4 separate regions of the Homo sapiens genome follow, and regions 1, 2 and 4 are each linked to region 3. The links come from fine-mapping of genetic effects on gene expression. A gene starts in region 3. Each other region holds a variant in brackets. All regions are shown on one strand. Distances are from middle to middle.

Region 1 (5,152 bases), 780 kb after region 3:
AAGCCCATCAGACTAACAGCAGATCTCTCAGCAAAAACCCTACAAGCCAGAAGAGACTGGGGGCCAATATTCAACATTCTTAAAGAAAAGAATTTTCAACCCAGAATTTCATATCCAGCCAAACTAAGCTTCGTAAGTGAAGGAGAAATAAAATCCTTTACAGACAAGCAAATACTGAGAAATTTTGTCACCACCAGGCCTGCCCTAAAAGAGCTCCTGAGGGAAGCACTAAACATGGAAAGGAACAACTGGTACCAGCCACTGCAAAAACATGCCAAATTGTAAAGACCATCGATGCTAAGAAGAAACTGCATCAACTAATGAGCAAAATAACCAGCTAACATCATAATGACAGGATCAAATCCACACATAACAATATTAACCTTAAATGTCAATGGGCTAAATTCCCCAATTAAAAGACACAGACTGGCAAATTGGATAAAGAGTCAAGACCTATCAGTGTGCTGTATTCAGGAGACTCATCTCACATGCAGAGACAAACATAGGCTCAAAATAAAGGGATGGAGGAAGATCTGCCAAGCAAATGGAAAGCACAAAAAGAGCAGGAGTTACAATCCTAGTCTCTGATAAAACAGACTTTAAACAAACAAAGATCAAAAGAGACAAAGAAGGCCATTACATAATGGTAAGGGATCAATTCAACAAGAAGAGCTAATTATCCTAAATATATTTGCACCCAATATAGAAGCACCCAGATTCAAAAAGCAAGTCCTGAGACACCTAAAAAGAGACTTAGACTCCCACACAATAATGGGAGACTTTAACACCCCACTGTCAATATTAGACAGATCAATGAGACAGAAGGTTAACAAGGATATCCAGGACTTGATCTCAGCTCTGCCCCAAGCTGATCTAATAGACATCTACAGAACCCTCCACCCCAAATCAACAGAATATACATTCTTCTCAGCACCACATCGCACTTATTTCAAAATTGATCACATAGTTGGAAGTAAAGCACTCCTCAGCAAATGTAAAAGAACAGAAATCACAACAAACTGTCTCTCAGACCACAGTGCAATCAAATTAGAACTCAGGATTAAGAAACTTACTCAAAACCGCACAACTACATGGAAACTGAACAACTTGCTCCTGAATGACTACTGGGTACATAACGAAATGAAGGCAGAAATAAAGATGCTCTTTGAAACCAATGAGAACAAAGAGAAACATACCAGAATCTCTGGGACACATTTAAAGCAGTGCGTAGGGGGAAATTTATAGCACTAAATGCCCACAAGAGAAAGCAGGAAAGATCTAAAATTGACACCCTAACATCACAATTAAAAGAACTAGAGAAGCAAGAGCAAACACATTCAAAAGCTAGCAGAAGGCAAGAAATAACTAAGATCAGAGCAGAACTGAAGGAGATAGAAACACAAAAAACCCTTCAAAAAATCAGTGAATCCAGGAGTTGGTTTTTTGAAAAGATCAACAAAATTGGTAGAATGCTAGCAAAACTAATAAAGAAGAAAAGAGAGAAGAATCAAATAGATGCAATAAAAAATGCTAAAGGGAATATCACCACCGATTCCACAGAAATACAAACTACCATCAGAGAATACTATAAACACCTCTGCACAAATAAACTAGAAAATCTGGAAGAAATGGATAAATTCCTCGACACATACGCCCTCCCAAGACCAAACCAGGAAGTTGAATCACTGAATAGGCCAATAACAGGCTCTGAAATTGAGGCAATAATTAATAGCCTCCCAACCAAAAGAAGTCTATGACGAGATGGATTCACAGCCGAATTCTACCAGAGGTACAAAGAGGAGCTGGTACCATTCCTTCTGAAACTATTCCAATCAATAGAAAAAGAGGGAATCCTCCTTAACTCATTTTATGACACCAGCATCATCCGGATACCAAAGCCTGGCAGAGACACAGCAAAAAAAGAAAATTTTAGACCAATACCCCGATGAACATTGATGTGAAAATTCTCAATAAAAGATTGGCAAACCAAATCCAGCAGCATATCAAAAAGCTTATCCACCAAGATCAAGTCG[G/T]TTTCATCCCTGGGATGCAAGGCTGGTTCAATGTATGCAAATCAATAAACATAATCCATCACATAAACAGAACCAAAGACAAAAATCACATGATTATCTCAATAGATGCAGAAAAGGCCTTCGACAAAATTCAACAGCCTACATGCTAAAAACTCTCAATAAACTAGGTATTGATGGAACGTATCTCAAAATAATAAGAGCTATTTATGACAAACCCACAGCCAGTATCATACTGAATGGGCAAAAACTGGAAGCATTCCCTTTGAAAACTGGCACAAGAGAGGGATACCTTCTCTTACCACTCCTATTCAACATAGTGTTGGAAGTTCTGGCCATGGCAATCAGGCAAGAGAAAGAAATAAAGGTTTTCAATTAGGAAAAGAGGAAGTCAAACTGTCCCTGTTTGCAGATGACATGATTGTATATTTAGAAGATCCCATCATCTCAGCTGCAAATCTCCTTAGGCTGATAAGCAACTTCAGCAAAGTCTCAGGATACAAAATCAATGTGCAAAAATCACAAACATTCTTATACACCAATAACAGGCAAACAGAGAGCCAAATTATGAGTGAACTCCCATTTACAATTGCTACAAAGAGAATAAAATACCTAGGAATCCAACTTACAAGGGATGTGAAGGACCTCTTGAAGGAGAACTACAAACCACTGTTCAATGAAATAAAAGAGGACACAAACAAATGGAAGAACATTCCATGCTCATGGATAGGAAGAATCAAAATCGTGAAAATGGCCATACTGCCCAAAGTGAGGCACAAACAAATGGAAGAACATTCCATGCTCATGGATAGGAAGAATCAAAATCGTGAAAATGGCCATACTGCCCAAAGTAATTTATAGATTCAATGCCATCCCCATCAAGCTACCACTGACTTTCTTCACAGAATTGGAAAAAACTACTTTAAAGTTCATATGGAACCAAAAAAGAGCCCGCAGTGCCAAGACAATCCTAAACAAAAAGAACAAAGCTGGAGGCATCACGCTACCTGACTTCAAACTGTACTACAAGGCTACAGTAACCAAAAGAGCATGGTACTGGTACCAAAACAGAGATGTAGACCAATGGAACAGAACAGCAGCCTCAGAGATAACACCACACATCTACAGCCATCTGAACTTTGACAAACCTGACAAAAACAAGAAATGGGGAAAGGATTCCCTATTTAATAAATGGTGCTGGGAAAACTAGCTATCCATATGTAGAAAGCTGAAACTGGATCCCTTCCTTACACCTTATACAAAAGTTAATTCAAGATTGATTAAAGACTTAAATGTGAGACCTAAAACCATAAAATCCCTAGAAGAAAACCTAGGCAATACCATTCAGGACATAGGCATGGGCAAGGACTTCACGTCTAAAACACCAAAAGCAATGGCAACAAAAGCCAAAATTGACAAATGGGAACTAATTATATGAAAGAGCTTCTGCACAGCAAAAGAAACTACCATCAGAGTGAACAGGCAACCTACAGAATGGGAGAAAATTTTTGCAATCTACCCATGTGACATAGGGTTAATATCCAGAATCTACAAAGAACTTAAACACATTTACAAGAAAAAAACAACCCCATCAAAAAGTGGGCAAAGGGCCGGGCGCGGTGGCTCACGCCTGTAATCCCAGCACTTTGGGAGGCCGAGGCGGGCGGATCACGAGGTCAGGAGATCGAGACCATCCCGGCTAAAACGGTGAAACCCCGTCTCTACTAAAAATACAAAAAATTAGCCGGGCGTAGTGGCGGGCGCCTGTAGTCCCAGCTACTTGGGAGGCTGAGGCAGGAGAATGGCGTGACCCCGGGAGGCGGAGCTTGCAGTGAGCCGAGATCCCGCCACTGCACTCCAGCCTGGGCGACAGAGCGAGACTCCGTCTCAAAAAAAAAAAAAAAAAAAAAAGTGGGCAAAGGATGTGAACAGACACTTTTCAAAAGAAGACATTTATGCAGCCAACAGACACATGAAAAAATGCTCACCATCACTGGCCATCAGAGAAATGCAAATCAAAACCACAATGAGATACCATCTCACACCAGTTAGAATGGTGATCACTAAAAAGTCAGGAAACAACAGGTGCTGGAGAGGATGTGGAGAAATTGGAACGCTTTTACACTATTGGTAGTGTAAACTAGTTCAACCACTGTGGTAGACAGTGTGGTGATTCCTCAAGGATCTAGAACTAGAAATACCATTTGCCTCAGTGATCCCATTACTGGGTATATACCCAAAGAATTGTAAATCATGCCACTATAAAGATACATGCACAGATATGTTTATTGCGGTACTATTCACAATAGCAAAGACTTGGAACCAACCTAAATGTCCATCAATAATAGACTGGATTAAAAAAATGTGGCACATACTATGCAGCCATTAAAAAGGGTGAGTTCATGTCCTTTATAGCAACATGGATGAAGTGGGAAACCATCATTCTGAGCAAACTATCGCAAGAACAGAAAACCAAACACTGCATGTTCTCACTCATAGGTGGGAATTGAATAATGAGAACACTTGGACACAGGGTGGGAAACATCACACACTGAGGTGGGGGAATGGGGGAGGGATAGCATTAGGAGAAATACCTAATGTAAATGATAAGTTAATGAGTGCAGCAAACCAACACGGGCACATGTATACATATGTAACAAACCTGCACATGTACCCTAGAACTTAAAGTATAATTTAAAAAAAGTAAAATAATGAAAAAGAATAGTGACTGTACATCACATAGCCTGCTGCCTGGCACATATACATACTCAGGAAATCTTTTTCTTTTTTATTCCATTCCCTGTTCTAGTAGTCCAGAAGACATGATGAGTGTCTGAACTAAGACAACAACACTGGAAATGGAAACAATTTGATGGATTTGAAAGAGATTTTAAGGATGATTTGGGAACTGATCAGATACGGGGTCTATGAGAAAAAGAAAAGATAATGATCACCTTCAAGTATCTAGGTTGTGTAATTGGCTAGAAGTTACTTGACATGAGATAGAGGATACAGGAGGAGGAACAGGGCTGTTAGTGAAGGTGATAAGCTGAGTTAAGTTACAGAGACATATCAAATATTCAAGTGGAACCCTTCAGTAGACACTTGGAATTCATTATTTT
Region 2 (5,152 bases), 23 kb before region 3:
AGCAGTTTTTAGAATCACAGGCCCTTGTGTATTTTAATAAGATTAAATAAGCCAATTTCTCCCCAGTAGCCACAAATCTTCATGGTTTGTTACAAGTAGAGATGCATTTGGAAATCCAAAAGAGTGGAGTTATCAATTTCAACAGAAGCACTTGAAACCCTTTGTTTTTTCAATTTGAGCTCAATTTGGGCCCACTGGACTTGCTGGTCTATGACGGGGGTGGTGAGAGGGGTGAGAAATGGAAGTACTGCAAAGGTTTTCTTTGGAATCTGAAGGAAAAATTCACCAAGGAAGTTGACATCAGCTCAACTTTGGTTTGGCTTCCACTATGTTGAGTGGAGCAGAAGAGACCAGATGGCCACGTTAGACCCCTAGGAAGCCTTCTGCTGGTGATGGCTGTTGAGTGATCTAGTGTGCAGTGGAAACATTTGTCAAAACAAATGGGATTCAATTCTGCCCAACCTGACTCCAATTAAAAAAAAAAGCTTCATAAAGGAGGTTTCTAAAGTGGAAAGAGTTAAACGTGAATGACAATGAGCTCTTCCCTGTCCAAAGACCAAAATAAAGCAGGTCAAACGGGAGAACTTGCCGCAATAGATTATGAAGGAAAAAGCTCAGCCCCAAAGATCTAAAATAATTTTACAAGAACACATACCGTTTGTACCCAACAAAACCAAAGTAATGGTAGTTTTCTTTCAAATCTGTAGCTTTGCGATGTGTATAATTTGGATTCCTAGTGCAGTTTGCCCTCAGTATGATACTGTCTTTTGATTACAATTAGAGGTAATGAACAAGAATTAATTTTGGAGCAGGAGAAGACTTTAAAATTCATCTGAATAACATATAGGATATGTTATTTATCCTATATGTTATTTATCAGGATAACATATAGATCTATTGTCTAATAACTGGTTATGGCTGAGTGCAATGCTATAATTGACTAGTGATGTCTTGTCATGGGCAGTGGAATGGGTAGCAACAATACCAGTGCCATCCACCACTAAATAATTTACAGGTAGGAAAACTTAGGTCCAAAGAAGTTTACTGCTTTGCCTCTAGGATGTACTCATTAAAGCAGGGGCCTTACTTATTCACTATTCCATCCCCAGAATCTAGAACAGTGTGCAGTACTTGATAAAGACCCCATAAATATTTGATGAATGAATGAATATAGGTGTGGCCAAGTCAGGATTTGAACCTGTCTCCCTTCCTCCTAGTACTGTCCACAATTCTGTAATGTGCACCACACTGCGTAAGCCAAAGAATGACCTTTCTTCTTTCAAATCCTTTCCCCACATTCATTTCTTTAGCTTATTTTGCATGAAGAGCTTAGGTTAAACAAACAAACAAACAAAGACACCATTAAGACATAAACATAGAATGCCAGGAAAACAGTTGATGTTAGGAACCCTTTGCTGTTTTGCTTGTATTATTTCCTCAAATTTTAGAGCAAGAAGAGGCAACAGATATTATATGGTGCAAACCCCTCCATTTGGAGACAAGAAAAGTGTGAGTGTCTTATTGAAGATTTCATAGCTAGAAGAAGCTCTAATATGACTCAAACCTGGCCTCCCCACTGCAAACCAATGGGCTTTTCTTCTCACAAGTCCTCCCAGAGAGAACCTCGGCTGATATTCAGTGGGCATGACCTGTGCGGATATACTGGTTGCTAAAACACTGAAATATTTCTATTTTGGTTTGATAATTGATGTCACCTTGAACCTCCAAGGCCCCGCCACCCACCCTGGCCCCTCCTTCAAGTTAGAGCCTGGCCCAACAGCGGCCTCTGGAGCCGGCTTCAGCACTAAGGCTAGCACCCACTGGAGTTCACCGAGGCCCCCACCCCTCACTGGTTGTTAAATATGTTAAATCTCATCCCTGGGTCAGGTGGGGTTAAGGGACGATTATGTAGCCCATTCTCTGGTTCAGCTGAGTGATCAGAACCCTGACACAGATCCCTTGCTTGGGAAAAGGTAACACTTCCACGTAACAAAGGTAACACTTCTGTGTAACAAAACCCCACTCCAGATGTGCTTCGAACACACAGCAATGAAGCCACTGAGATCATCAGCCCACCTTCAGAGAAGCTGAAGATGGTCTCAATGCAAGGAATCACAATGACTACAAGTCTGTAAGCAAAATCTGCGGGGAAAGAAGCGAAGATTTCTCAACCTGGAGAAATAAAGCCAGAGCACAGGCAGCTCAATAATGCTTTCCAAACACAGGACATTCAAAAGCCAGTGGCCAATAAGGTGTTTAATTTTCTTTAAAGCCAAAGTCTGAGAATAAAAACTCGATTTTCTAGCAGATATGATTTAGGTCAGAACTTCCTCCAGAAAGGATACTAGGCAGTGAAGCAGGTTCCTAAGGAAGTCTGTGGAACATTCGATGGCAGGAATCTTAAGAATAAAACCAGTTCTACTCCTAGTAATTTATCCTCCAAACATGCTTATGAGTGTGCACAGAGATACATGTACAGGGATGTTCAGTGAAGCCTTGTGGTTAAAAG[C/A]AACAGCATGATCATCAGCAAAAGATAGGTTAAATAAATTACGGTCTGTCAGGCGATGCAACGCTAAGGAGCTGTTGAAAAGAATGAGGTCGGCAGCATGTCCTGGTACAGAAAAATCTACTGTATTGTTAATGAGCGCAGGTCTGTTTCTAGAATCCTCTCATTTGTGCAGGAAGAAAACGGGACACAACTTAACGCTTGTATGTGCAGAGAACATTTCTAGAAGGAAACACAAGAAACTGTTGCTAATGAATTTACTTCTGGGAAAAGGACCAGAAGATTCGAGGGGGAGGGGTGTGGAAACTTACTCGTTCCCCTAAACCTTTTCACGCTATTTAAATTTTTTTATTGTTACCGTGTACACGTATTACTTTTTCGTCTACGAAAGAAAAGAACAAAAGCTCTGAGCACTTCCGGGCAGGCATATAGAAGGAGCCAGCTACATCCCAAGGCCTCCCCACCCTCGGCCTCCAAGTCTGCCCAATCCGCTTCAAAGACACAAAGTCCAGTGGGTGAAGAAAACAGGATGATTCACATCGATAAAAATTCAACTTTAAAAAAAGTATTCTTTCTAATTTAGAACCTGGGTTAGGACTGTATTAGCATATTTCAGAGAGGCGGCATAGCAAAGTCAAAAGAATCAGGAAGTCTGGACTCCAGTTAAACAAACTCCCTGAGCCTCGGTTTTCCTCTTTGTTAAAGAAAGGTTGAGAATAATACTGTCTTTCCCATGGTACTATTATGAGGATTAAATGAGACAATGTGTGTGAAAAAAGTGTTTCGAAAAATCATAAAGGGGAATGTAGATGCTAGGCATTAATTAGTGTTATTACTGAAAAATTCAGACTACCATGATTAACTGGAAAAAAAGGAACTAGGTCTGTTTTTTTTAATGCCAAATATATAGTTTATAACTACTAAAAGTACTATCATGACATTGACTTGAATAGTCCTGCTGCATAAACCATTTTTTTTCACAAAGACAAGTCAAGGCTGGTTCCAACACTTGACTTAACTTTCAATCATTTTGTTGTAATGAAATTTTGTTATAAAAAATCATACTTCCAGTCCATTGGATCTGAAGATGAGAATGCATTTTTGAAACGAAAAGAGTGGAGAAGAAGAAAACTGCCATGTTGCCCCAGAGTTTCTTATTTAAGAGGGAAGATCAGAGAAGTGTTCATAAAGCTAAACATTAGGGCATTTAAGAACCTTCCAAGAGTGTTCCTAAACTGCTTATCCAGTCTTACTTCTTGAATTGCCCATGTCACACCTGAGATTATACCTTGGAAAATAAACCACAGCAAGTGTGCTGCTAGTCCACATTTCCACTCCATGGCAGACAGTAACTGATGGACATGGCACTCTTTCTCAGTAAGTGCAGACTCATCCTCAGAATCCTACTCAACACCATGCTCTAGGCAGCCACCCCCAAGCAACACAAGCTAGCCTGTGAGATGAAGCCCTTGTTGCCATCTTTCCCGTCAAGGAACAAAGGCTTATCACCATTTCCCAATCCGGAATTTTCTCCTTTGTGTGCCACAGCTTATGCCTTCCCCTCTGCCTGAAAGCTCAATGTCCTTCTTTCATTCCTTTTTTTTTTTTCCTTCTTCTTCTCTTTTTTTGAGACAGAGTCTTGCTCTGTCACCCAGGCTGGAGTGCAGTGGCACCATTTTGGCTCACTGCAGCCTCCATCTCCTGAATTCAAGCAATTCTCCCACCTCAGCCCCCCAAGTAGCTGGGACCACAGATGCATGCCACCATGCCTGGCTAATTTTCTGTATTTTTAGTAGAGATGGGCTTTCACCATGTTGGCTAGGCTGGTCTCTAACTCCTGGCCTCAAGTGATCTGCCTGCCTCAGCCTCCCAAAGTGCTGGGATCACAGGCGTGAGCCACTGCACCCAGCCCCTCCTTTTTGATCCATGAAAACTCTACACATCCTTCAAGTCTCTGTCAAAATGTCACCTCCTCTGAAGAAGCCACACAAAGTGCTTAACACACACAGATTGCTCAGGAACTTTTTTTCAGTGAATGAATGACTTAAAATAAATAAATAGCTTCATGACATCACCTGGTAGTTTAGCCTAATGAATAAGTGTGGGGTTTGGGAACCAAACTATCCAGGTTCAAACTCCAGCATCTTCATTAATAGCTGTGCAAACTTAGACAAACTACTCTATCTCTCTGAGTCAGTTTTCTGTTTTCTCCTTGGTGGAATATTGGGCATATTAAATTAAATAACAGCGGGCCAGGCGCTGTAGTTCACCCAGCACTTTGTAATCCCTGCACTTTGGGGGCCGATGCAGGCAGATCACTTGAGGACAGGAGTTTGAGACCAGCCTGGCCAACATAGCGAAACACCATCTCTACTGAAAATACAAAAATTAGCTGGGTGTGGTGGCACGTGTCTGTAACACCAGCTACTCGGGAGGCTGAGGCAGGAGAATCGCATGAACCTGGGAGGCGGAGGGTGCAGTGAGCTGAGATCGCGCCACTGCACTCCAGCCTGGGTGACAGAGCAAGACCCTGTCTCAAAAAAATTAGATAACCACGTAAACCACATAAAGCACTTTGACAGTGCCTGGCACATAGCAAATGTTCAGTAGCAGTAAGTGACTGTAACTATTGGTAGCCATGTTAAA
Region 3 (5,152 bases):
ACACAATTATACATTTGCGTTTTCTCTCTATTGTTTTATGTTTTTCAAGTGTTTCATATGGATATTTACATTTTCCCCAATTCTCACACCAAGCTTCTCCAAGATCAAGAAGCCTTGCCTTCAGTAGTATCTTGGGTAGTGTAGACCCAAGAGCAACATCCCTAGTAAACGGCTAGATCTTCAGAACAAAATGTGGAGACTACCTTTTAAGTCGGCCTTTTGTGTCCTTTGCAAAATGGCTCTCTTGTTTATCAAAGTCTGTCTTGTACAGTAAGCGTATCAGAAGTCCATCTGAAGGAAGCATACAAAGGCAGGAAGCACTGACATTTCCCCCCACCATGAGGTCCCCAAATCCATTCCTTCCCCATCTGCCAAGACATTCATCCATGCTCTAGTTATTTTCCACATCACAGTATTTTCTAAAATTACTCTTTCCGGAGCCCTTCCTCACTCCTTCACTATCTCACTTGAGTCTATCCATGGCATCATTTTTCCCTCTGTTCTCTTAATCCCCCTTGGTGTACACAGAACTTTCACAGGAATACTTGCTCCATCATTATCTGTCTCTGTTTCCAGAGTCCACTTAGGCCCTTAGGCTTTGCTCTCCTGACTCTGACTTCCTGAACTGTCCAGAAGTAGTCCCCCTCCTTGCCAGGTCTTGAGATGTCCACGTGGAACTTTTCGGCCCGGCCCATTTGTATATGAATGTTTCACGCAACACTCTACTACATCACTTCTGCTTCTGTGGGTAGCCAGCAGGGCCCTGTGTACAGGGATCATCTGTTTAAACTGAAATCTTGTCATTTGTTATGGCAGTTTTATTTATGAGCCTGTGTGTTGTAACCTTGTGGCATAAATATTAAATAATAATATCTCTTGGGCAAAAAAATATCATTCATGTTAACTGACAACTTCTTATGAAAATATGAAGTAAGCCCAACCACACAATTTGATATTGGCTAATTCTGAAATATGAGTAAAAGCACGGATTGCTCAACAGGTAGATGCACAGGCAGAATTATAATTTGCATTTTTACACCTTCTTGCTTCAAGAAATGAAACATTCAAGAAGTAAAAAACGTTAAAAGAAACGGGCTGAGTGGCAAATTTCTTCAGAATCAAATTCTAATTTCTGCCAGTATCTCCTAAGCAGTTTTTAGCTTCCAAAAAGAAAGACTCCAAATAATGACAATGCCACATAAGTGAAATGAATTCTGGACAATGACACTGCTCTTTTTTTTTTTTTTTTTGGCATTCTGTGAATTTCCTATTACATCAGTTTCATGATTCAGCATTTTCCATTTCATTTATTTACAGTAATATATGGCGAGATAACCCAAGGTTTCTGCAGGATTGTGGAACATAAGTTACTCTGGGCAGGAAGGGTGTCGCCTTCTGTAAATTTACTATTGTTTAGGAGAACTCAAAACAGAAGCAAGCAAGCCCTCAAAGGAACTGAGAAAATTTCTCCCCACTTTGTTCTGAGGGGTCTCAGCTACTCTGGTATTTAAAATAAATGGGTTTTGAAAAATAGGTTACTGCCCTTTAGTTGATGACTAAAACAGAAGCCAAGAAGTGTGCAAATTGCAAACTGACATGCATGAGCCAAACATATTCTCTGAAATGACAATGTTCAAGACGCAGCTAAAGTCACCACTCTGGCGGTAAGCGTGTTACAGAGAACTAGATTTCTTTCCGGCATCCGCAACTTGGCTGGAGTGACCAAGGAGGAGTTGAAGAGCGCTGGAGATGCGAGGTGCGTTGGCAGAAAACTGTCCGGGCCGGGAGGACCCGGTGGAAACTAAAAGGAGGGTCGACGCGGGTGGCGGGCGCCGAGAGTAAGAGGCGAAGTTGGGCACGGGAAGGAAAGGAGCTGCGAGAAGATTGAGAGGGAAGCCCAGGAGGGGTGGGGGGTTGGGGGGTGCTGGAGACTGCGCGCGGCGGGGCGGGGAGCGAACTCCGGGCGGCGAGGCTCCCGGGTGGAGTCGAGGACAAGAAGGGGTCTCGAGGGTAACCCGACCCGGGTCTAGAGAGAGTCCAGGAGGGAAAGGAATGAGCACGAGCGAGAGAGCAGCTTGGCAAGTCCGGTCCAAGCGCCCCTCTCCACGCCCGGGGTACCTATCCCAGGTGCCGGGAACGCCCGGGGCGCAGCGACGAGGAAGAGAGAAAACTAGCAGCGGCGTCCCCGCCCCGCGTGGCGGGTGTCCCCGGCCGCCCCCACCCGCGTCCCCGGGGCCCCGCGCGGAGGGGAAGACCCGGGCAGGGTCCGGCGCTCACCAGGTAGCAGAGCAGGAGCAGCGCGCAGGCAGAGCGGCCGCCGAGGCCCTGGGGGACGCCGCCACTCGGGACCATGGCTGCGGCCCGGGGGCCGACCGCGAGCGGCGGGGGTTGCTGCTGCTGCTGCCGCGGCCACCCGAGCCCCGCGCCGCGCCGCTGCATGGCGAGGCCGCCCGGATCCGGGCCGGAACAGGTCACCTGGTGCAGGGACCGGCCCCCGCCCGAGGCGCCACCTTCCCGCCCGCCCCCGGCCGGGCCGGCCGCCGCGCGCGGGGCCACCTGCCGCCACCTCCGGACCCGCCGCCGCCGCCACTGCCGCTCCCGCCGTCGCCGCCCCCGCAGCCCCAGCCGAGCGCCGGCTCCTCCCCGCCTCCCCGTCCCCGTCCCCTCCCTCCCCTCTGCCTCCCTGCCCAGCCCTCCTCCCGGCCGCTCCCTCTGGCCCCCGGGCTTCCACCCCTCGGAGCAGCGGGCGCCCACGCAGGTGGGCACCGACCCGGGTCCCGCCCCTTGGCCGCCGCCACCCCCCGCCCGGGTCGCTGGGCCCCGGCGCACCCCCCTTTCCCTTTCTCTCTGCTCCTCCCCCGCCCCCCTTCCGCGCTCCTGCTCTCTGCGATCCCCCTCCTCTCCCTCCGGCTCCCTCTTCCTTCTCCCCTCGCGCTCCCAAACCCCCTCTCTTTTTCACTTTCTCCTTTTCCTCCCTTTCCTCTTTCTCCCTTCCCATCCTCTTCCTCGCTTCCGCATTCTTCCTCTCCCACCCACCCCTTTTGCGGGTCGCACAGACCAGTTCCCGCCCGTGCAATGGGTTTTTGTCTGGTTGCTTTTTTGGCCGGGGCGCCATTCCCGCAGGGCGCAGGGCGAGTGTGCCCCCTGGAGTTGTGCCGCGCAGCTGCCCGGCTCCCAGGCCTTCAGGATGGATTTTGACCCCTGCCAACCTCCACCTGTCCACCTGCGGGGTTGGGACTGCCTCCTTGCTGGCATGTTTGCAGCCGGGCTGCGCCCCACCCTGCCGGCTGGTTCGCGGCACGTTCTGGATGTTTCCCGAGGGTTTTGTGTGGTGCCGCCGCCACCGCCACCACTGCGCTCTTTGTTTTAATTGTCCAGAGTATTGGCACCCAGGACGGGTTTGTATTTGATTTGCATCCCTGTGCTCCGGCTTCCACTTTGGACTGAGAAAAAAATGAATTAATTAGGTCAATACAGTAATACTGGAGCCCCAAATGAAAGGGGTGAGGCCCTGGAAGTGCGCAAACAGCTTTTTAAAAAACCAGGACACATCCTCGGCCTTGGGGACGCAGGTTGAGACTGGCTGCTCTCCGACCCGGGTTCTGCGGCCTGGCGGGGAGGGGCCTCCGGCCGGCGGGACCACCAGCTCGCCGCCGGCCTTGGCTTTCAGGGAAGCGCTTGGCTGTGTCTAGCGGCTCCGACAACTATCTGGGCCCGCAGCTGCTGCTCTGAAACAGTTAATCCACCTTCCAAAGTTCGCAGAAGCTTCCCTTTAGCACTGGTAGATTTGTGCGGATTGGAACTAATAATAGCCTGGGAGCCTGAGAGGCCACAGCCCTTTCCCTGTGCCACGAGCATAGGTCAAGTCACAACAGACGTCGGGGAGAGGCTGGTGGTGAGACGGGGTGCCCGGGATGGTTTGACGGGCGTGGACGCGCCCTCAGCTGCTTCAGTACAGGCCTGGCCACACCAGGCATGGTGGCTCCTCAGCTGTCGTCCACTTTTTTTTAGGTCACCTAAGAGCTGTGGCCTTGTGTGAGTTCCCTGGCCTTATTCCACCGGTTCTCAAACTTCAGAATTACCTGGAGGGATTGTTAAAACACAGATTCCTGGACTTCAGCCCTAGAATTTCTGACTCAGTTGGTCCTGGGAGGGACTTGAGAATGTACCTTTCTAACAAGCTCCTGGGTGATGTTAACGCGCTGGTTCAAACAGCCCTCCTCCATTTCCAGAACTATTGGCTTTTAGGGAACTGGGCTCCTGCTCCTCCCAGCCAGCTGCCACCACATTAAAGCATTTTGGGGGTTTTGACAGATGCTCCCACTATCTCTGTTCCACTTCTGCAGAAACAAAGCACTTAACATTCTTCTGTGTGACGTGGAAAACATTTATTCTATCGAGTGTCCAAGGGAACAAAAGATTTGGTGGCTTTGTCCCAGATCCTGTCTATATCTTTTCCATCAGGTCAAAATACAGACTATGCTTTTAATGTATATGGAAGGAAAATTGTCGGCCAGTTCAGGGGGAAGGGGCTTCAACAGGCATTGCAGCATTTCTAGGGTTGCCACCTGTCTTCCTGGGCCACGCTCCGGAGTTTCTCTCCTCCCACATTGTACACAGATTCTGTTGGTCTTCGGGGAGCTAAATGGTTCCTCGGGGTTGTTTGTAATCAGGATTCATGGAATTGGGAGTTTTCAAGGCCTTGTGAGCTTTGAGGATTTGGGTTTACCTAAGTGTAGGTAAGCAGAGTGCCCCACTGGAGGCTGGACTGTTTCTAACTTGCCATATCCAACTGCTCACTTCTCCCCTACTCACTCATCTCCTATTGTGTTCCTACTGTGGACTGGGCACCACCTGAGGCCCCAGGATTCCAGAGGTAGGCAGGAAGGCTCTGTTTCTGCAAGGAGCACCAGGCATGCAGAAAACCGGCCAGAGTTTGGTCTTCTAAGAGGGATGTGTGAGTTGCTCTCTCATCCTGAGCTAGAGGTGGTGGGATTAACTGCTTCATCCTGTGTTGGAGAGGGGGAGAGAAAAAGTCAAGATTTCTTTTCACGGGGGAGTGGGACGTTTTGATCCAGAAGACAGAATCAGCTCTTACTTTTGCGTCTCTCCAGCAGTTTGTGTCAGTCATTGAAAGGGCGTGGTCTGATTT
Region 4 (5,152 bases), 150 kb before region 3:
TTTTAGACAGTCTTGCTCTGTCACCCAGGCTGGAGTGCAGTGGCATGATCTTGGCTTACTGCAACCTCCGCCTCCCGGGTTCAAGAGATTCTCTTGCCTCAGCCTCCCGAGTAGAGTAGCTGGAACTACAGGTACACGCCACCACGCCCGGCTAATTTTTGTATTTTTAGTAGAGACGGGGTTTCACCGTGTTGGCCAGACTGGTCTCGAACTCCTGACCTCAAGTGATCCGCCCAGCTCGGCCTCCCAAAGTGCTGGGATTACAGGCATGAGCCACCGCACCTAGCCCTGAGATAATTTTTGTATGTGATATGAGGAAGGGGTTGAACATAATACTTCTGCATGTGGGAATTCAGTTGTGCCAGAACCAATTGTGGAAGAGCCTATTCTTTCCCTACTGGTGGAGAAAGATCCTTACATGATTTTAATCTCTGTGGAATATGCATGGAGGCAGGTAAAGAAAAGTCAGCCACTCCAAACCCTGGTCTGGAAACAAGCAGGGAGCCCAGGACAAGTTGATCAGTGCTTCAAACAAAGGACAGGGAGGAGGAAAATTTCCAGAGTCGCAGCCCTGCGTGTAAGTGGAGGAGCTGTTCTCTGTTTATGATTTTATCAAATGTAAGTTGAGTGGCACTTTCAAAATAATTTAATTTATAAAATGCAGTCAATAGAATGAATGTTGCAAACCATGTGGTAACATTTAAATCCCATAGTTGGAGCTCAGTACATTCAACATACCCACACACAAGGCTAATCTTTGTATAGGGGAGCTGAAAGATTTCTATCATTTAGGTAATTTACTTCCTCTGTTTGCTTTTTTTTTTTTTTTTTTTTGAGACAGTATCATTCTGTCACCTGGTCTGGACTGCAGTGGCATGATCTCAGCTCACTGCAACCTCCACCTCCTGAGTTTGAGTGATTCTTGTGCCTCAGCCTCCCAAGTAGCTGGGAGCATGTCATCATGCCTGGCTAATTTTTGCATTTTTAGTAGAGGCAGGGTTTTGCCATGTTGGCCAGGCTGGTCTCCAACTTCTGACCTCAAGTGATATGCCCGCCTCGGCCTCCCAAAGTGATGGGATTACAGGCATGAGCCACTGAACCGGGAAACTTAGTAGGGTTTTTATAGAGATAAATTAGTTAAAATATGTGAAGTCCTTTGAGTAGTCCTTGGCTATATAAGTGGTAGCTATTTGCCATCAAGATGATGATCATGATGATGAATGATGATGATGATGATTATTTTATCATCTTCATCATTATGTTCTCCTGACTCTTTAAGGAAGGGGAGAAAAGAACAGTTTATAATATCCGCAAAACAGCAATATATCAAATAATAGTTTTTTTGTTTTTTGTTTTTTTTTTGAGACGGAGTCTCGCTCTGTCTTCTAGGCTGGAGTGCAGTGGCTTGATCTCGGCTTACTGCAACTTCCGCCTCCTGGGTTCAAGCAATTCTCCTGCCTCAGCCTCCCGAGTAGCTGGAACTACAAGCGCCCACCACCACACCCAGCTAATCTTTTGTATTTTAGTAGAGACGGGGTCTCTCCATGTTGTGCAGGCTGGTCTTGGACTCCTGAGCTCAGGCAATCTGCCTGCCTCGGCCTTCCTAAGTGCTAGGATTACAGGCATGAGACACCGTGCCCGGCCAAAGAATAGATTTAACAAAATATTTGTTAAACCTTTAGGATAGAAATTATAAAACTTCATTAAAAGCCTTAAAAAAAGATGAGGATGCAATTTATCTATTTATTTTTCCCACACGTGAACCACCAGTGATGATGCAATTTAAATGATTTGTCTGATAAGGCAAGTCACTCCTCTTTGTCTTTCTCCAAAGTTGTCTTAAGTACTTTTTGTCCCTTTGCTCTTCCAAAAAAATTTTAAAATTAGGTGAGTTTACAGATGAATTTTGGGGGGACTTGAAATCTTTATGAGATTGAGTTCATGTCATAAAGTGAGGGGGCCTGCAGTAGCTGAAGCCCCATGGGACCACCAGCCTTTTTCATATACTCCAAAGTACCTTGCGAAGATGATCATTTTCTATGTGAAAATGATGTACAAAGGTTACTAAGCACTGGAATGGACCAGAGGGCTAGAACAGGGAACTCAGAAATAGAGCCTCATATACATTGCAAATTTCATCATCTCCAAAAGTGCCATTACCAGTCTGCTGGGATGAAAAGGATTATTCAATAAATGGTACAGCTACTTATGTATATGGACAATAAAATAAAATTGCTTTCTTTCTTTCTCTTTCTTTCTTTTTCTTTCTTTCTTTCTTTCTTTCTTTCTTTCTTTCTTTCTTTCTTTCTTTCTTCTTTCTTTCTTTCCTTCTTTTT[CT/C]TTTTTTTTTTTGAGACAGAGTCTTGCTCTCTCACCCAGGCTGGAGTGCAGTGGTGCAATTTTGGCTCACTGCAACCTCCATCTTCTGGGTTCAAGAAATTCTCTGCCTCAGCCTCCTGAGTAGCTGGGATTACAGGCATGCACCACCATGCCCGGCTAATTTTTGTATTTTTTAGTCGAGATGGGGTTTCTCCATTTTGCCCAGGCTGGTCTTGAACTTCTGGCCTTAAGTGATCTGCCTGCTTCAGCCTCCCAAGGTGCTGAGATTACAGGTGTGAGCCACCGCGCCCTGCCAAGAATGCAAAATATTACAAAGTTTTTTGAAATGTAGGATAATATTTTGATGACATCAGATCAGGAAAAAACCTAACAAAAGCAGAGAAAGCTCAAATCATAAAACAAAAACAAATAAGTTGAATCATATGCATGGGAACAACCACTACAACTTATGTCACAGACAAAGAGCTAATTTCAACAAGAAAGAACATTTTCAAATCAATAAAGTAGCAATAATTCGATAGAAACAGATAGATCACAGAAAAGTATACATAAGTGGTCTTAAGAATCTAAAAATACTAAATTTTTGCACCCTATGTTCAACTTCGTTAATAATAACAGAAATACAAATCAATGGTCAGGCATGGTGGCTCACACCTGTAATCCCAGCACTTTGGGAGATTGAGGCAGGACCATCACTTGGGTCCAGGAGTTGGAGACCAGCGTGGGCAACAGAGCAAGACACGCTCTCAATTTTTAAAAATTATATTTTTTAAAAAAGAAATGCAAATAAAAACTACATTGAGATCCCATTTTTCACCTATCGGGTTGGTAAAAATCCAGAAGTCTGACTTATGTTATTGTCCATGGTAGAGGAAATAGACCCTTTTACAATGCTGTGGGGAGCAAATTTTTACAACCCCTATGGTGGAAATTTGGCAATATCTGTCAAAATTACAATTGTACCTACTCTTTGGCCATTTCCATATCTAAAAATGTTTTCCCTAGACATCTACACACGCGTGTGCCATGATAAAAGAACAAGGTTACTCAGTGCACCATTGTTTGTAACAACAAAATATGGGAAAGAAGCCACTAAATATTAATCTTGTTAAATATAAATTATAGTACATTCATATTATGGAATATTATATAGCTATAAAACAACAAAGAAACTCTCTTAAATATATTACTGGTGTGGAATAATCTCCAGGTTATATAGTAAAGGAAGAAAAAAAAACCCAAGATGCATAACAGTGTACACTAATATTTGGATTAAAAAAGTGAAAATATTTATTGTATTTTGCTTTTATGTGCATAATTCTGGGAGGACACTAAAGGGAATTGGGTGATTTGAAGAGGCAGAGAATAGACCTTTTACTATATGCTCTTTTGTACCTCTTGAAGTTTAAGCTATGTGCTGTATGCATTATCTTTCAAAAGAAAGAGCAATATATTAAAATTGAACACATTTGCTACATTGAAGTTAAAATTTTTGATATAATAAAAGGTATCATAAGAGGTTAAAAGACAGTAGGAGAATATATTTTCAATACACGTAACTGAGAAAAGATTCGTATCCAGAGTTCCAAATCAATAAGAAAAAAAAATCCAATATGAAAATGAACAGAAAATATGATCAAAACACTCACAGAAGAAGAAATGTAAATGGCCAATTAACATAATAAGAAAGGCTTATTATAGTGATCAGGAAACTATATATTAAAATGAGCTATCATTTTACTACAGTTGATTGGGAAACGTTTTAAATTCTGACACATTCAAGTATTGGTGAGGATATAGAACATAGAGAACATTCATAGCTTGCTGGCAGGAATGTAAATTGGTATTACCACATTGGAGAACTACATGGCAATAAAGTAGAAAATATGCATGCCCTTTGACACAGTAATTGCACTTTTGGGTACATAATCTAGAAAACTTCTAGAACATTTGCTTTAAAAGATACGTACAAAATATCCATTGATATATTATTTGTATTAACAAAAATCAACAAGAAAATGAATAAATAATGTTATTACAAAATTGAACATTATATAGCAATATTCCTATTCCAAGATTCCTATATGTATCAATGAGAATAAAGTGTAAACACGTAAGCTGGAGTTGAAAAGCAAATGGTTTAAAGAATATTACTTAAATAAAATTTTAAAACATTCAAATAATTCTATGTAATTTTTGTGCTAATCTACATATGTAGTAAGAGTATGACAAGTACAATGGAATTAGAAACACTAAATTCAAAAAAAGGCCAGGTGCGGTGGCTCATGCCTGTAACCCCAGAACCTTTGGAGGCCAAGGCAGATGGATCTCTTGAGCCCAGGAGTTCGAGACCAGCCTGGTCAACATGGTGAAACCCTGTCACTATTAAAAATAGAAAAATTAGCCGGGCATGGTAGTGCATGCCTGTAGTCCCAGCTACTTGGGAGGCTGAGGTGAGAGGATCACTTGAACCCAGGAGTCAGAGGTTGCAGTGAGCCGAGATCACACCACTGCTCTCCAGCCTGGATGACAGAGTGAGACCCTGTCTTGAAAAACAAACAAAAACAAAAACAAAACTCATGTAATCCATAAATATATACACCTACTATGTAGCACAAAAATTAAAAATAAAAAAAACCCCATTAAATTCAAGTCATGGTTACCTCTGGGCATAGAGGGAGGATGAACCTTTTCCTGGCTGTGTGACAAGAACTAGGTTTTTTTCTACCACGATAGGAGTAGGGAAGAATGGTTATGGGATATTTTTTGTGGCTATAATATTTTGTTTTATAAAAACCAATGATTGTGCAGGGCA

Which allele goes with the higher level. Positions count from the first base shown, and alleles are read on the strand shown. Sizes are in standard deviations (SD) of each study's normalised expression. Not every link is listed here.
For the expression in prefrontal cortex of the gene that starts at base 2,591 in region 3, CT is the low allele of the variant in region 4 and C is the other (moderate effect, 0.57 SD a copy in CommonMind).

Evidence for each region. PIP is the estimated chance that this variant, and not a neighbour inherited with it, causes the effect.
Region 1: its variant is the best candidate, but not a certain one, in a credible set for the expression of SEL1L3 in B cells (CEDAR, PIP 0.70).
Region 2: its variant is the best candidate, but not a certain one, in a credible set for the expression of SEL1L3 in monocytes after LPS (Quach 2016, PIP 0.75).
Region 4: its variant is the best candidate, but not a certain one, in a credible set for the expression of SEL1L3 in prefrontal cortex (CommonMind, PIP 0.82).

The regions. Positions count from the first base shown.
Region 1 is chr4:26,642,204-26,647,355 of GRCh38, forward strand. The region is part of intron 7 of TBC1D19 (TBC1 domain family member 19); the gene reads left to right. Among named protein-coding and RNA genes, the nearest start is that of TBC1D19, 61 kb to the left of the region's middle. The variant G/T (reference allele first, on the strand shown) is at 2,034.
Region 2 is chr4:25,836,917-25,842,068 of GRCh38, forward strand. All of the region lies in intron 2 of SEL1L3 (SEL1L family member 3), which reads right to left. Among named protein-coding and RNA genes, the nearest start is that of SEL1L3, 23 kb to the right of the region's middle. The variant C/A (reference allele first, on the strand shown) is at 2,510.
Region 3 is chr4:25,860,398-25,865,549 of GRCh38, forward strand. SEL1L3 (SEL1L family member 3) reads right to left here and starts at 2,591. Exons shown (of 24, transcript NM_015187.5): 1 at 2,278-2,591. The coding sequence starts at 2,439. LOC102723733 (a long non-coding RNA gene) reads left to right here and starts at 730. Exons shown (of 2, transcript XR_427503.5): 1 at 730-1,756. It overlaps LOC124900688 (a long non-coding RNA gene), which reads right to left. Exons shown (of 3, transcript XR_007058092.1): 3 at 4,811-5,009. RefSeq lists silencers at 1,590-1,884, 2,155-2,614, 2,665-2,824.
Region 4 is chr4:25,712,241-25,717,392 of GRCh38, forward strand. It overlaps a transcript of SEL1L3 not described here. Among named protein-coding and RNA genes, the nearest start is that of SLC34A2, 59 kb to the left of the region's middle. The variant CT/C (reference allele first, on the strand shown) is at 2,337.